Regions from separate parts of the Homo sapiens genome. Here region 1 is linked to region 2. The links come from fine-mapping of genetic effects on gene expression. Tissue or cell type: whole blood. Region 2 holds a variant in brackets; the other region holds the start of a gene. All regions are shown on one strand. Distances are from middle to middle.

What was found. PIP is the estimated chance that this variant, and not a neighbour inherited with it, causes the effect.
Region 1: CAMTA2 starts here. The variant in region 2 is fine-mapped to the expression of CAMTA2 in whole blood (TOPMed, PIP above 0.99).

The regions. Positions count from the first base shown.
Region 1 is chr17:4,986,535-4,989,034 of GRCh38, reverse strand. It overlaps CAMTA2 (calmodulin binding transcription activator 2), which reads left to right and starts at 1,360. Exons shown (of 23, transcript NM_015099.4): 1 at 1,360-1,442. INCA1 (inhibitor of CDK, cyclin A1 interacting protein 1) reads left to right here. Exons shown (of 7, transcript NM_001394789.1): 6 at 91-256; 7 at 481-905. The coding sequence ends at 630. CAMTA2-AS1 (CAMTA2 antisense RNA 1) reads right to left here and starts at 1,291. Exons shown (of 3, transcript NR_187235.1): 1 at 810-1,291; 2 at 443-619; 3 at 1-348. RefSeq lists a silencer at 1,341-1,880.
Region 2 is chr17:4,959,603-4,962,212 of GRCh38, reverse strand. SPAG7 (sperm associated antigen 7) reads left to right here. Exons shown (of 7, transcript NM_004890.3): 2 at 1,360-1,427; 3 at 1,666-1,754; 4 at 1,895-1,979; 5 at 2,102-2,191; 6 at 2,297-2,453; 7 at 2,570-2,610. Among named protein-coding and RNA genes, the nearest start is that of SPAG7, 6.9 kb to the left of the region's middle. The variant G/A (reference allele first, on the strand shown) is at 1,163.

The sequences.
Region 1 (2,500 bases), 27 kb before region 2:
AGGAAGTATTTCAGAACAGAAAGGTGAAGAATGGAGAGACAGGAAGCCTGGCCTCCAGGCACTTCTCTCCTCAGCCTAAAGTCTCCACAGACTGAAGAAGGCCCAGTGGGGCAGCTCTGGGGCTGCATCTGAGCCAGTGGTGCTTGGCGAAGAGGGCTGTGGATTCCCCAGCACCAATGAATACCCTGATCTGGAAGAGGAGAGAGCAACCTATCCACAGGAAGAGGACCGTTTTCTCACTCCTGGCAGGGCCCAGGTATTGTTGGAGTGGAACTGGGTGGAGTGAGGGAGTGATGTGGGTCTCTGGTCTTGCATGGAGATGCAGAAGCTGAGAGCCAGGCTGGAGAGCTGGATTTGAGAGAAACAAAAATAACGTAGGTGAGAACCAGAGACTTCGAGGTACCTAAGCTTGGGTACTAGGAAATCTGGAAAGAAGACCTACTTTTCCATTTTCTTTTTCAATTTCTCTCATCTTGACAGCTGCTTTGGTCTCCCTGGAGCCCCCTGGATCAGGAGGAGGCTTGTGCCTCCAGGCAGCTGCACTCTCTGGCCTCGTTCAGCACTGTCACAGCCAGAAGGAACCCCCTTCACAATCCCTGGGGGATGGAGTTGGCAGCGTCTGAAGAGTAAGGAGAAACCACCGATGCCGAGAGGCTAGTGGTGCCCCAGGGACCCAAGACTAGTTCCGTCACTAGAGTCACCCTCATTGCTGACATGAAGGCGTTTCCCCTTCCTTCGTCTCTCCAACTGCCTTTCCCATCCTCTGAACTAGGCATTAACAGCCCCCGTGGGCTCCCATCTCAACCCACCGCTCTCACAGGAGCACCCCAAGTCCTGTTTTCCTCCAGGCCCCGCTCCTGGCCTTGTATTCTCTCTGCTCTGTTATTAAAAAGCAAGCAAGTGGAGCCCGAGTTGTCTTTCTTCTTGGGATGCAGCGATGGAGAGGCCAATGGGGAAGGAGGGCTCCTTTCGCTTTCTCGAGGACCCAGCTACAATGAAGTCGGGCTGGGTCCCCAGACAAGGAGTCTTGTCCGAGGCGAGAAGGGTCCTGCTCCCAGTCCAGCGTTCCTCGCCCGGCCCCTCGGGTTCCAGCACTGGTGGGCTGCCCCCGCCCCGTTCTCTCGAACTGGGAGTCAGTCGGCCGAGCTTCCGCCTCCAGGACCCTGGAATCCTGCCCCTCAGTGCTGCTGCCCTTTTGGGGACTTCCCAGCAGTCTGTCCCTCGGCCTGGCTCAGAGCCCTAGAAGCCGAGTCCCTCTGCCCAGCGCCCCACCCAGAACTCCACGTGTGCTGACCCCAGGTTCCCTTCCTGACCCTCATCCCCTTAATTGGGAGGCCCCGCCCCGTGCGCAGTGACGTTAGACGCCGCTGTCAGCCGGCGCTGGGGGGGGTCGGTGTGGGGTAGAATGGCCGCTGCCGCCGTCACCCGCGGGACCCCGGGAGGTAAGAGCCAGGGCCTCTCGCCCGCCTCTCCGCCCCCGCGCCAGAGGGCGCAGCTCCTCCAGGTCCCGACGCGGAGCGCCGCGCCAGGGACCACCGTCCCTCTTCCCGGTTCGCCCTCACCTCCCGCTTCCGTCCTCCTCCCCCGCGCCAGGGGGCGCCGCTCACCGCAGGGCCCCACGGCGGACCAGCGCGTGCCGGGGACTGTCCCGGAGACCCCCGCACCCGGCACCTGCACTGTCCCTCGCCCACCGCGTGCCCGCGGACTCTGCTCCCGGCTTCTCCAGAACATCCCTCTATGCGGGCGGGACCCTCCCACCTCGGAGGTTCTCCTGGGACCACCACTCCGCCGGGGGGCCGCCCAGAGTGCCAAGCGTCCGATCCGGCGCCGCCCAAGTGCAGCCCAAGGACCCGCTCCCGCTCCGCACCCTGGCAGGCTGCCTAGCCAGGACTGCGCACCTGCGCCCTGGGGCGGAGTCCTTACCCCAACCCCAGCTTCACTGCACATAGCCGAGCCCGACGGGCCTCCTCCCATCTCCATCCTGGACACCTGGCGGAGCCCGTGCTGAGAGCCTCCGCCAGCTCCCATCTGTTCCCCGAGGAGGGCGGGGGGCTCAGGCTGGAGCCAGAGCGGTAGATGGGGTAGGCTAGGCCTGGAGGCCAGGGGAGGCAGAGGCGTTTGGGGAGAGGGAGCTACGTAGAGAGGGCTGTCAGCCGGAGGGTGGGTTGTCCTGAGGGTGGGAATCTGGGTGTCTGGCCCAGATTCTATCAGGTCCTAACCAACCTGGAGGAGAGAATAGGTTAGGTTCAGTTATCAGATCTGCCCTTCCCCTTGGAAAAATCAAACAGAGAAGGAACTCAGGGCGTGTCTTCTAAAGGCCTAGCTTCTACCGGAGGTAGAATCTCCTGCCCTGCCCCCAGGATCCAGGCTCTCTTGCCAAACCATCCTCCAAGGACCGGATGGCCTGAGTCCCAACCCCCAGGACCTGACCCAACCATAGCCCCAGTCTGTGCAAAAGCTCAAGGTTTAGGGCCTCTGAGGCCCAAGCCCTGCCAGTCTT
Region 2 (2,610 bases):
GAACCTGGGAGACGGAGTTTGCAGTGAGCTGAGCTCATGCCACTGCACTCCAGCCTGGGTGACAGAGTGAAACTCCATCTCAAAAATAAATAAATAAATAGATATTTGTTAATTGGTTTCCCCAGTGGAGTTGGGAAAGGGGGTTAAGCATTATTCTGATCTTTGTCACTCCCACTAAACTGGGAGCTCTTGAAGGGCCACATTGTGTCTTAATAATCTCAGTACTTCAGGGTCTCGCCTGGTGCCAGATACAGTAGTCCCTACTTCTCCCTTATCCAAGGTTTTGCTTTCCAAGGTTTTAGTTACCTGCAGTCCAGAACTGTTATATACAGTAAGATATTTTGAGAGAGAGAGAGAGCATAGCCACAAACTTTTATTTCAGTACATTGTTATAATTGTTCTATTGTATTATTGTTATTCTTAATCTCTTTTTTTTTTTTTTTTTTTTGAGATGGAGTCTTGCTGTGTCGCCCAGGCTGGAGTGCAGTGGCGCCATCTCTGCTCACTGCAAGCTCCGCCTCCCAGGTTCACGCCATTCTCCTGCCTCAGCCTCCCGAGTAGTGGGGACTACAGGCGCCCACCACCACACCCAGCTAATTTTTTGTATATTTTTTTTTTTTTAGTAGAGACAGGGTTTCACCGTGTTAGTCAGGATGGTCTCGATCTTCTGACCTCATGATCCATCCACCTTGGCCTCCCAAAGTGCTGGGATTACAGGTGTGAGCCACTGCACCCGGCCATCTCTTTTTTTTTTTTGAGACGGAGTTCACTCTTGTTGCCCAGGCTGGAGTGCAATGGCGCGATCTCAGCTCACTGCAATCTCTGCCTCCCAGGTTCAAGCGATTCTCCTGCCTCAGCCTCCCCAGTAGCTGGAATTATAGGCGCCCACCACCACACCCGGCTAATTTTTGTATTTTTAGTAGAGATGGGGTTTCACCATGTTGACCAGGCTGGTCTCGAACTCCTGACCCCAGGAGATCTGTCTGCCTCGGCCTCCCAAAGTGCTGGGATATAGGCGTGAGCCACCATGCCTGGTCTATTATTCTTAATCTCTTACTGTGCCTAATTTATAAATTAAACTTTATCATAGGCATGTATGTATAGAAAAAGACATAGTATGTATAGGGGTCAGTACTATCCACAATTTCAGGCATCCACTGAG[G/A]GTCTTGGAATGAACCCCTGTGGATAAGGGGGACTATTAGATAGAATAAACATCAATAAATGCTTGATGAATAAACGCTAATCCTACCTTCCCAGCCTGACACCTCCCAGTGGACACCACACTTCACTTGAAGCCTTAGAAACCTTTCCCACCCATGCTTCCAGCCCTGGCTTCATGTTGCCATTTCTCACCCCCAGAACAGGCCGCCCGCCTGAAGAAACTACAAGAGCAAGAGAAACAACAGAAAGTGGAGTTTCGTAAAAGGGTGAGAACAACTGGAGTGATCAAAGGCAGACTCAGGAAGGACTTCCAATAAGTTAAAATTGGAAGGTTGAGGACTCAGTTTTGCTGAAAATGTCTTGAGAGAGGTGACGCATGGAAGCCAGTGGCTTGGAGGCTGGGGAGGGTGCTGGGGAGGCGTAGAAGGGCCCAGGCTCAGCTAGGGAGAGGGGTACTTGGGTGGAGCCATTGTCTCATATCTGCTTCCTTTCCCCTCTCCCAAGATGGAGAAGGAGGTGTCAGATTTCATTCAAGACAGTGGGCAGATCAAGAAAAAGTTTCAGCCAATGAACAAGATCGAGAGGAGCATACTGTGAGTGTCCCTGGGCTGGGGGAGGAAGGAAATGGGTGGCTAGCGGGGCATGAAAGGGCCAGCGGGGGGCTCCTCCAGAGGAGGGCACTAGGCCCGCTCCTGGCTCAAGATGCTCTTTCCCCTCTGCCATCCCATCCCAGACATGATGTGGTGGAAGTGGCTGGCCTGACATCCTTCTCCTTTGGGGAAGATGATGACTGTCGCTATGTCATGATCTTCAAAAAGGTAAAGGGCCTGAATTCCTCATTCTCTCCTCTCCCCTTTGTAGCCTTATCCCCCCTCCCCGACCAAGGAATGAAATGAAACATTTGTATGGACTCTGACCCCATCATTCTGCTCTTCTTCAGGAGTTTGCACCCTCAGATGAAGAGCTAGACTCTTACCGTCGTGGAGAGGAATGGGACCCCCAGAAGGCTGAGGAGAAGCGGAAGCTGAAGGTGAGCTATGCTTTGCAGCCCTTGGGGTCCAGAAGCCCACCACCTGGGAGGGGTGGGGGTTTGGGCTGGGGCCCTGAGCACCAGTGCCCCCACTTTCACCCCTAGGAGCTGGCCCAGAGGCAAGAGGAGGAGGCAGCCCAGCAGGGGCCTGTGGTGGTGAGCCCTGCCAGCGACTACAAGGACAAGTACAGCCACCTCATCGGCAAGGGAGCAGCCAAAGACGCAGCCCACATGCTACAGGCCAATAAGACCTACGGCTGTGGTGAGGCCACAGTGCGGCTGGGGGTGGCTGGGAGAGGAGCATAGGATGCGGCAGGAGGGCAGTGGAGGCTGAGGTACGGATTTCTAGGCCCGCCCTACCCTCCTCTCTGCCCCTAGTGCCCGTGGCCAATAAGAGGGACACACGCTCCATTGAAGAG